Linked DNA regions of Homo sapiens. The protein of the gene in region 3 purifies or fractionates together with the protein of the main gene of each other region. This does not show direct contact. Each region holds a gene or a part of one and is shown on either strand. Other genes may lie near its edges. The genes, in order: KDELR2, HACD3 and SERINC3.

Region 1 (3,434 bases), on a different chromosome or scaffold from region 3:
AAGTTAGGAGGGCAAATATGATTACTGTATATGTACCAAGCTCCAGCCACGAGCTTTGCCAACAGCAGCTCATTTAAACCACACAGAAATCCCTGGCAGTTTACCTATGTAACTGGAGGCAACGAGGCTCACGTGAAGTCCAGGGCCAGGGAGTACAAGTGAGGGAACCAAGCCTCAACACATGCCTGGGCCCAAAGCATGTGCTTTTCTTACTTAAGGGTTCCCATAAATCACTATGATCTCCATTAAAACCACTTCTCCACCTGCTCTTCTCTTAGCCAGGGCATAAGGCAACAGGGAAACTTCTTCAAAGTTTCTTTGTGATTGAACTGGACAGGGGAATAGATTGGTCTCTCTCTGTTAAGGAGCCAATGGATAGAAGCCTTTATTATTTTTAAGTTTTCATTTTTACTAGTTTTTTAAATGAGATGTGGTCTTGCTAGGTTGCCCAGGCTGGTCTGAAACTCCTGGCCTTAAGTGATCCTCCTGCCTTAGCCTCCCAAAGTACTGTGATTATAGGCATGAGCCACCAGGCCTGGCTGGAAAGCAGCTTTTCCTATATCCATTACTGGGCAAATATCTGAACTTTGCTTTATTTCTCATGATGCTTACATTGAAAAACACACAAACACCTCAATAAAAATATTAATTACCTGGTAACCTTTATTCGGGAAGTGAAAGTAACTGTGAAACAGTGCTTCATAAGGCGTGGCATACAAGGCCTTGGTTTCCAACGCCGGCGAGGATGAGGCCCAGTCCCACACTCCCTCGCAGGCACCCTTGCTAAGATGTCCTCCTGGGTGACCAAAACGGTGGTAACATAGCCAAGGTTACTTTTACTTGGGTAGGATGACTGCAGAAGGAATGGCTACACAGAGCTTCCAGACCTTTCCATGCGTTGTGCTCTCCAGAGGATGCGCCAGGTGTATCAGATTTGCATGCACAAAGACAGGTGTGCGCCCCACCCACCCTGGGCTGGGCAGCAAGAGGTCTGCTCACCTACTGCACCAGACTTCCTAGCCTCCTTCCACACTCCGAATCTTCAAGCAGGATGAAAAGAGACCACAGAAACTGAAGCAAGACTAGGATGCTGCAAAGAAAGATGCTCTGATACACAAAAGCCAAAACATAAGACAAGGAGGGAAGAGTAAAATGAGGGAGACAGACAGGAAGTTAAACTATGCAGTTACACTGCCGATTTAGAAAGATGTTAAGACACACACTAGATACAAATGAAACCCATCCTGCTCCCTTCCTCCAGAAGACGTTGTAATGCAGAAAGCCAAAATACTACATCCTTCTTGTAGTCAGCACTGTTAGTATTCAACACTTTAATATTTATGGTGTATCACATAAAAAACAAAGTCATATACTTTTGCATTAATCAAAAAATAGCAAATCCATATAATGGCAAAATCAGGAAAAAAATTCTAGTATTTCCACAAAATACATAATGTCTTACAGATGATTATGTGAACTTTAAATGTCTGCAGCCCTACAGAGCTTTTGTTGCCAATTGAAAAACAAAAAAATCCCAACACAGGATGTTCAAAAAGCCTAATTCATAAAAAGACAATTTATTCCATGTTTAATATAGTGTTTTTTAGGATGGTAACATAAGTCATGCAACAGCTCTGTAAAACAAAACAAAACAAGAAACTACGATGTCGGCTGCGGGTTAAATAAAAAGAAAACCACACATACAAAAAAGAATGTAAGGAATGGTTAGTGGTGCTGCCAATTAAAAAAAAAACTGTAATTAAATCATCTTACCACCCAAAAGTGATATGGAAAACTGTTTGAATCTGAGCATGGACATGGTTGTAGTCATCTTTTGGAATTATAAGTGAAAGTGATAGGTAACTCCTTGTGTTCCATTTCTCAGAGTAGATTGCTATATCCAAATGATCATGAACACCCCTCCCATCCCACACTCAGATGGAAAGCAGCCAGAACCCCTGCCACTGGATTCTTCAGCACCCTTGGGACAGTCTCCAACTGACACTTCCCAGCAGGGGAGGAGGGCAGGCACCTTTGGTGACTCTTCAGTGAGACTCCATCGACATTCAGAATCTTAAAATGTTGGTAATGAAAACCATGGACCTCCAAGTCATCCTTACCAACCTTAAATGTAGTGTTGTGACATCCAACGAAGGACTTCCACGTCACGTGGGAATAAATTTGAACAGATACATCCAATTGAACATAGTGTCTCAGATTTCAAACAAATACAGCTCATCTTTTGCCAAAAAATAAATATAGTGGAATGCAAGTTTGAGGGATGGAAGAATATATAATCTATCAACTGTCAAGGAGTACAATTTCATTGCAGACACAAAGACTTAAGAGTTTCAAAGAATTTTTTAAAATAAAAAAAAAATTTGCACTTATTCCTCACAAAATCTTCACTTTTGGAACTATCCCAATTGAAGCTACACACTGAATTTATTAATACAGCATTAAGTTTCTTTGTGTAAAAAAATCTTTGTACACAGTAATAAAAAAAGATAAGGCAAGATGCATTAAACAGAAACCTTCTGGCTCTTTTCCTCTGCGTTTTTACAGAGCCACTGATGACTATCTGCAACAAAAGAGTTAAGTTTCTGATTTTCCGTATCAAGCATCTTATGCCTTTGCTGTGGTAAGAATTCTGTCCGAGCACCCTGAAGGACAGATGCTGGTGATGGTCTTTGGCACTTATGCTGGCAAACTGAGCTTCTTTCCCTTGAGTACTAGAATTTCAAAGAGAAGAAAAGAAAACAAAAGGTTACTGATATTGACAAACTTAGCTTCCTTCTTCCCATTCCTAGAAGTCTCCCACACACAAGATTCTACATAGTAAGGTATAGGAAATAAGCAATTGTATTTTAAAAATACAAATTTGATTGAAAGTGCCACTAAATTCATAGTGGCTTTTTGTTATTATGACTTTCACCCTAATCAATATATAGTAAAATATAGCTTATGTAGGGAGGCCTATGAAATTCTGGGTACTATAACATAAAGGCCGGATGCAGTGGCTCATGCCTGTAATCCCAGTACTTTGGCAGGCCAGGGTGGGAGGATCCCTTGAAGCTAGGAGTTCAAGACCAGCCTGGGCAAAAAAAGTGAGAGCGACCCCATCTCTATAAAAAAAAAATTTTAAAAAGAACCAGGTGTGGTGGCATGCACCTGTAGTCCCAGCTACTCAGGAGGATGAGCAGGGAGGATCACTTGAGCCCAGGAGTTTGGGACTGCAGTGAGGAAGGATCACACCACTGCATTCTTGCAGCCTGAGTAACAGAGTGAGACCCTGTCTCTTTAAAAAGATAAAAAAAAAAAAAAACACAAAGGATGGCAGGGTGAGGTAGCTCACGCCTATACTTCCGGCACTGTGGGAGGCAGAGGTGGGCGGATCTCCTGAGGTCAGGAGTTCAAGACCAGCCTAGCCAACA
Region 2 (3,539 bases), on a different chromosome or scaffold from region 3:
ATGCCTGGCTGATTTTTGTATTTTCAGTAGAGATGGGGCGTCACAATGTTGGCCAGGCTGGTCTCAAACTCCTGACCTCAGGTGATCCACCCATCTTGGCCTCCCGAAGTGCTGAGATTACGGTCGTGAGCCACCACGCCTGGCCATGTTCTTGAGTAGGCTTGAATTAAAAATTAGGTTGTTTCTGCACTTTAGATTTGTGCATTTCATTGTAAATTTTACTGTAAAAGAAAGAAAGAATATTGAACTATACCTACCTGAAGAATTAGGGGGGTGAGGTGTATTGATATCTGCAACTTAACACTGAAGTGCATAAAAAATGAGATGGCTGGAGGGATAGATGAATAGGGATGTGATATAGCCAATATAGTAAAAAGCAGTAAATCTAGATGTTCCCTGTATAATGATTTAATCTTTTGCGTGTTTGAAAATTTTATAAGAGAAAAAAATGTTTTAAACTCACTGGGAGGCTGGGTGTGGTGGCTTACGCCTGTAATCCCAGTACTTTGGGAGGCCAAGCTGGGCAGATCATTTGAGGTCAGGAGTTTGAGACTAGCCTGACCAACATGGTGAAACCCCACCTCTACTAAAAATACAAAAAATTAGCCAGGCATGGTGGTGGACGCCTGTAATCCCAGCTACTCAGGAGGCTGAGGCAGGAGGATTGCTTGAACCCAGGAGGCGGAGGTTGCAGTGAGCTGAGATTGTGCCACTGCACTCCAGCCTGGGTGACAGAATGAGACCCTGTCGCAATAAATAAATAAATAAACCCACTGGGGAAAAATTGCTTTGTGTCTATTGTATTGTTAATTTGTTCTAAATTGTACTCCTTCCTGAGCCGCTGCAATAAGCTTTTTGCTGTGGAATATGACGACAGCTAGATACTGTCCCTGCCACAAGAGCTTCTGGTTATAAATAGACAAAGACTCTAATTTCTAATTGACCTCTTTTCTTTTTCAGGTTTATACATAAATTTTCGTCACCTTTATAAACAGCGCAGACGGCGCTATGGACAAAAAAAGAAAAAGATCCACTAAAAAGAAAGATTTAGATGGCTTCTTGCCAGTTTGAGCCTAATCTGATTCTTACAGTTTTACCTTCTTGAACCAATGTAAAAGTTTTTTTAATGTTAAATGATTAAATTCTCAGTGAGGCTATCTTCCTTTTCCCCAGTAACATTCCTGAATTTACTGTTATCTTATTGTAGTACTTGCATGACATGGATTCCTGATATCTGATGAGAGGTTCATTCTTGTGTATTCAGTTAATGACACCAAAAGGCTCAGCCCACCCCAACCCTATCTCATGTTCAGTCTGTCTAATACATGCCAGAGATTTTTTTTTCAAAAAGTGCTTTATCCCTACAATGTACTGACAGTTCTTACAGTTGAGATTTGTTCTTTTCAGCTATTGCTTGTGAAAAAAAGCAAGACTATGTCACTCTATAGAAGGCTGTTAAAGTGACTCAGGCAGGAATTAATTATTCTGTACCTAAGGGGTTACTTGTTTAATGGGATGGCATTGACTTTTTGAAAATCAAGTGGACTGAGTCATTGATAAAACATTTCTAAGAGTGGGGCTAGAGAACATACTTTACATCTGACATCCTTTGGCCTAACAACATCTATTATTATAGTGCTCAGCAGTGTGGGCATTGAAGAGGCGCAGAATGCTTTGAAAGAAACTAATCAGAATCTTGGAACATCATGATCATGCCATTCTTAAGTAAATCAACTATTTTCAACACTGAAGAAAAATGAAACATTATTTAGAAAACAATGAGATTACAAGTTCCAAACTCAGCCAGGAATGTGGCTCACACCTGTAATCCCAGCACTTTGGGACACCTAGGTGGGAGCATCGCTTGAAGCCAGGAGTTCAAGACCAGCTTGGGCAACGTAGTGAGACCCCTATCTCTACAAAAAATAAAAAAATTAGCTGGGTGTGATGGCACACACCTGTTGTCCCAGCTACTCAAGAAGCTGAGATGGGAGGATCCTGAGCTCAGGAGGTCAAGGCTGCAGTGAGCCGAGATTGTGCCACTGCACTGCAGCTGGGGTGACAGTGCAAGACCCTGTCTCAAACCAAACCAAACCACACACACACAAACACACATACACACACACACACACGAGGTCCAAATGGTAGCAGGGATCCAAAGGGAACACAGTATGTAGGTCAAACTGGCAGTAACAGTGTACAGCCTTTGACAAACTAGAAATATTAGAGTAGGCCAAACACACCTCCAAACTGTAAGGCTGTGCACAAACATAAAAAATGGCAGCCTTCCATCTCCTGCACTGGCTGAGTCCATTTACTTGTGTACTTGTTCTAGTGAGTGGTGGGACTGTACATTTTTGAATAGACCTCAAAAATACTTCATTCTGCTGCTGTTCAGTTGGCTTTTTAAACCTGTCTGCAGTAGGACACTGAAAACAGCAAGAACTTCGGGGTGAACACCCGCTGATCCTTTAACAAGGATTTCTGGCAGGAAACTCACAAAAAGGAGAACTGAAAATTTAGACATACAGTTGGCCATTGTAAAAAACATCAGTTTCCTCTCATACATTCCAAGTAAACCAAGTAAAATAAGTGTTGGAGTAACACTTGCATAAAAGAATTTAAGGAGTGATAGCTCTTTCTGTTCTGCCATTCCCAACATTCCTGGGGGAAAGGAGACTCAATGAGTTAATACTATTTCACTGAGCCCAAGATGGAAACTTGGTTTGACCTAAAACATCTGATTAATATAGGCTAGCTGATTTCTTAAAAATTCGTTGCATTGAAGGATATTTTGCATGTCTGTAACACCTGTCAATACTTGTTTGTATTGATTTCTGATATTCTTGCAGCTGACTACGTGTAATTGGGCAGATCAGCTTTGCAGTAGATTATGCTGCATCCTCGTGGCAAAATTCTGTATTCTTAGTGATTGTTACAAACCCCTTTATTGCTGTCTGAGAAAGTGAAAGATTGTGTATTTCTATTAAAACATTTACAATCAAAATTCTAATGACTGTGCTTAAAGATAATTTAGTCTAATGGTTCTCTGTTAGTGATAAAGACCTTTGTTCAGGCAAAATATTATGTAGCAGTTCAGCATGTTAAACCAAAAACAGTTGCTCTGGTTGAAGCCTGAGAGTTACATGGAAGGTGGTGCAAATGAAAAACACTGATGATGCAGACAAAGCCTTGAGAAGTTGCCCAAAGTCATAAAGCTAGCTGATAAATTGGAACCATAATTAACTTTGGAATCGGATCGGTGATCTGTCAGGATTACCTAGCCAGAACCTTGCTTAGGCAATGAGGCCTAATCAGTGTCAGAAATAAGGAAACCTCATGATTTATGAATCTATGCCACTTAGAAAGTTGAAATTATATTAAAGTGATAAGACAGACCAAAAGCAAACGACCTTTAGTTTCATAGTGAAACCATTTTCTAGAAAATCAAATATTTTATTTTCATTAAAAAAAAACCTTGAATAATAGGAATCATTTTACACATTAATGGTTGCTCTTTAAAAGTTAGAATCTCAAGA
Region 3 (4,435 bases):
CTCTTACCAAGACACCTTATATTTTCTCTGATATGTGTTCTCCCTTTCTGAACAAGCTAAATAAACCTAATTCTTTTTGACTACAGGTATGTTTCTGGTAGAATTCGATCTGTAAAATTTATCACAGTCAGCTCTCTTAAGTCCAGACCAGCAATACTCAGACAGGAAGAAGCAAGAATGTTAAGGACTACCTGGAAAGTTCAGTGGTCCTGAAGCAACTTGACTTGAGCTGGTATTTGTGTATGTGTGGTGAGGAGAGGGATCTGGGAAAAGAGAGGTAGGAATTATTAAATGTGAGTAGTTCTCTTTCTTCTTTCATCAGCCCTTTTCATGGCCTTGGGCAAACTTTGAGCCTCATTCCATTTCTGTAAAAGATGAATTTGGAATACATTTTCAAGGAATCCAGGAAATAACATCCCCAAATATGCCACACTGGTATGATGATTGCTTGGGGAACAGCACATGGAGAGAGGGGCTTTTCATGAATTTCCCTTATCAGACTAAAGGCTGACAATCCAGAAGGAATTCAATTATGAATCCCCTTCCAGAGAGTTTTATCTATCAGGGAAGATTAACACACCACAGGAGAAGATATTGAAGTGTGACACCTTGTTGTCCGGACATCATCATTGTTTGCCACATTCCACCTAAACTATTATATGTGTAAGTAAAAAATGTTTTCATTTTCTTCTTTAAGTGAACTCTCAAATTTGACATGTATTTTGAAAGGAATATTTACATCACTGCTTAAATGGGAAATCAGCATTGCTCGGAAGAAATGAAAAGGTTATTGCTAACACACACCTCAAAACAAAACAATATTTTAAAACTGCAGGCATGGTTGCCTGTTTGAGAGATCTGGAAAATGAAGGCTTTACTCTGTTAGAAAGGGAGATAAATACTAGAAAAATGTTAAATACCATACTGGCCTCAAACAACTAGCCTGTTGGTTTGAAATGGGACGTTCTCACTCTGCTGTTTAATATCGCTTAATGTCCTTCATGCACCCTTAGAGCCATTCATTTTTCCCAAATGGGGTGCATCCCACATTTTAGGATACGATTTCCATCGTTTCTAGGTTAATTTGGACTCATCCTTTAGTTCGCAGATTAAAAAATAAATCCTTCAGAGAAGCCTTCCAAGACTACTGCCCAGCTAAATTACTTTCCCCTTACAATAGGAGGCACTAAATACACCTTTATTGAAAGCCTATTCCCCCATACTACTTCATCGTATTCATTACATTGGGGCACGGTGCATTTATGTTGTCAGATCTCCTATTAACTAGAGAATAAATTCTGAGCGTACTGTGCCTCTCTGTACACTTCTGTAACTTCCAGATCTTTGCACAATGAATACAAATGATGTAAGGAATGACACCTTCACAGTTCCTGCAACCCCAGGATGGTTTAGCCCCACCTTCCCCCTCAGCCAATGACAGGCGCCCCCCTCTGCCGCTCCGGTCGCGGACGGTGGGCGGGGCCACGCCGTGACGCATCCGTGCGTCTGTGGAAGGCTGCGTTTCCGGCCTGAGAAACCGTCATGTTTCTGGGGAGTCACCTCAGCTGGCAGTTACCACCGTGTTAGAAAGCAGCCTCAGGACCGGCCACCTCCATCACTGGCGTCACCATGGGGGCTGTGCTGGGTGTCTTCTCCCTCGCCAGCTGGGTGAGTTCGGGGTCCCGAGTCCTCGCCGGACCTGCGGTTTGCGGGGAAAGGCCTCGAGACCAGAGCTGCACGGGCCTTGGCTCCAGAGGCTCTCGGGATGTCAGCAGGCCCTGGGCTACAGAGGGTCTCCGGGGCCCCAGACGCAAATCCGCGATACCCTCAGGTCCAGCTTAGGCGGCTCGCCCTCCGGGTTCCTCGGGGAACGGAAGAGGCTAGGCCGCCATTGTTTACAATTCGGATGGCTCCGCCCTGCGAGGCTTCCTGACTAGGTTCCTCTGGAGCTGGAGAGGGACCAAGGAATGACAGCTCCCAGCGAGGGGCTCCGGTTCCTCCCGAAGCACCTCTTAAGGTGCCATCATTTAGTTCTAGGTGGCTCAAGTAATATTTTTATCCCCTAGCACGGGATTTGCCAAAACTACAGAGTGTGTGGCAAAGCTGGGGTTTTAGCGGAGGCTTGTCTGCAGTTCAGGTGCAAGGGAAAGAAGCCCTTGTGGATTGTTATTCAAAATTGGAAACCAGGGCCTGAATATTTTGGGACTGCTGTAAGTCATTTATCCGAGGATAATCACCCCAGCATTCCTCTCTTCGAGAACGATTGTGACAGTGAAGTGAAGGTTTAATCACCTTGTAAACTGTAAACATTTTAAAGAGAAAATTATAGGGCCTATAAAAGAATATGCTGAGTTCCCTCATTTACCCACTTCAGAGGAGCGTGATTCCTTGATTCCTCATTCTCCAGCTGATTTAATTGACCAAGTGTGTAGAAAAAGCACACTCAGTTTCTCCTGCTGTACTCACAACACACTTTTGACACCTGATGTGTGGTGTGTGGGGATTTTCCCCCAAACATCAGGCAAACAGTCAGCTCTGCAGGGGATGCCAACTTGGTGCCCTACAAGTCAATTCCGAAGCTCTCTACTTGGAGATAGCATCAAATCACACAAGTGGAGGGCTCAGTCTCACAAGACTGTGCCCACTTTCTGTGCCAATGGCAAGCCTCAGGTTGTTTTACCTGTGCTTCTGACCGGCCACCTATAAATCAAAGTTCCCGTGACCTCCCTCCTTGGCTTTGATTAATTTGGTCACAAAACTCAAGGAAACATGTTTACTGGTTTATTATAAAAGTATTTTATTTTGTGTATTTATGTATTTTTAATTTTAGATTCAGAGGGTACATATGCAGTTTTGTTACATGGGTATATTGCCTTATCGTGAGGTTTGGGTTTCTAATGATTCCGTTGCCCAAACAGTGAACACAGTATCCAACAGGTAGTTTTTCAACCCCTATCCCCCCACCGTCCTTCCCCACTCTTGGACTCTCCAGTGTTTATTGTTGCCATCTTCGTGTCTGTGTTCCCAGTGTTTAGCTCCCACTTGTAAGCGAGAATATGCTGTATTTGGTTTTCTGTTTCTGTATTAATTCACTTGGGATAGTGGCCTCCAGCTGCATCTTTGTTGCTGCAAAGGACATGATTTTCTTCTTTTTTTATGGCTACTATTAATATATTTTTAAAGATACAGATGAAGTGATATGTAAGACAAGGTGTAGAGGGAACGGGTCTGGAGCTTCCATGCTCTGTCTGGGGCAGTGGCGCCATCTCGGCTCTCTTCAACCTCCAAGGGATTCTCATGTTTCAGCCTCCCGGAGTAGCTGGGATTATAGTGTATGCCACCACGCCCAGCTAATTTTTGTATTTTCAATAAAGACGGGATTTCGCCATGTTGGCCAGGCTGGTCTCGAACTCCTGGGGTGTGAGCCACCATGCCCAGCCAAAAGTTCTTCTGAACTTTGTCCTTCTGAGCTTTTATGCAGGCTTCATTATGTAGTCAGCATTCATTAAATCATTGGCTTTTGGTTACTGACCTAACCTTCAGCCCCTCCTTGGAGGGTCAGGGGTGAGACTGAAAAGTCCCAACCTCCTACTATGACCCTCACCCATCATGAAGCCACCTAGGGGCTGCCAGTCACCAGTCATCTCATTAGCATACAAAAAGACGCTGGTTATTCCAAGGATTTTAGAAATTGTATGCCAGGAAATGGGAACCAAACATACATATATTTGACAGTATTACACCAAGGATTCTGTTTCAGCTCTTTCTACTATTTTTCTTTTTTTTTTTTGGAGGGGGACAGAGTTTTGCTCTGTCACCCAGGCTGGAGTGCAGTGGCTCAGTCATAGCTCACTGCAGCCTTGAACTCCTGGATTCAAGTGATCCTCCCACCTCAGCCTTCCCAGTACAGGTGTGTGACACCATGCCTGGCTTCATTCCACTATTTCTTAGGAACAGAATGTATTTTAAGGTTGTTGGTCCTAAATCAAAAGAGTGTTCCATTTTTAAGGGCTTTCTTGAGAGCAGTGGTTTTCTAATTATTCTGACCTTGACCTAAAGAAAGATTGTACATAGTTGATCTGTGATCTGATGCACCCATATAGAGACAAAGTTTTATGAAATAATCGTTTACTGTACAATTTTTCTTTTATCTTCTATCACATTAGAAAATCCTGGTGAGTTGAAGGCCAGGCATGGTGGCTCACGCCAGGATGGTCTCAATCTCCTGACCTCGTGATCCGCCGGCCTCCCAGAGTGCTTGGATTACAGGTGTGAGCCACCGCGTCTTGCCCGGCTTTTACTCTTAAGTTATATGGGAATCTATTACAGAGTTTGAAAAAAGGAGTGATGTGATCTGGGCCTGTGTTTTAACGAGGTGGTTTCTGGTTGCTGTGTGGAGAATAGATGGTAGAAAAGTAAAGGTAAAGCAGTGTAG

Evidence for each region.
Region 1: the proteins of SERINC3 (region 3) and KDELR2 purify together in Homo sapiens (affinity purification with mass spectrometry; one large-scale study listed by BioGRID and IntAct). This does not show direct contact.
Region 2: the proteins of SERINC3 (region 3) and HACD3 purify together in Homo sapiens (affinity purification with mass spectrometry; one large-scale study listed by BioGRID and IntAct). This does not show direct contact.

Annotation. Positions count from the first base shown.
Region 1 is NC_000007.14:6,460,444-6,463,877, forward strand, and holds the end of KDELR2 (ER lumen protein-retaining receptor 2), read right to left. Parts: intron 2,733-3,434; coding exon 2,698-2,732; coding exon of another isoform or gene 2,523-2,697; 3' UTR 646-2,522; downstream 1-645. UniProt on the Homo sapiens protein: Membrane receptor that binds the K-D-E-L sequence motif in the C-terminal part of endoplasmic reticulum resident proteins and maintains their localization in that compartment by participating to their vesicle-mediated recycling back from the Golgi.
Region 2 is NC_000015.10:65,575,343-65,578,881, forward strand, and holds the end of HACD3 (very-long-chain (3R)-3-hydroxyacyl-CoA dehydratase 3), read left to right. Parts: intron 1-960; coding exon 961-1,037; 3' UTR 1,038-3,007; downstream 3,008-3,539. UniProt on the Homo sapiens protein: Catalyzes the third of the four reactions of the long-chain fatty acids elongation cycle. This endoplasmic reticulum-bound enzymatic process, allows the addition of two carbons to the chain of long- and very long-chain fatty acids/VLCFAs per cycle.
Region 3 is NC_000020.11:44,519,146-44,523,580, reverse strand, and holds the start of SERINC3 (serine incorporator 3), read left to right. Parts: upstream 1-1,510; 5' UTR 1,511-1,629; coding exon 1,630-1,668; intron 1,669-4,435.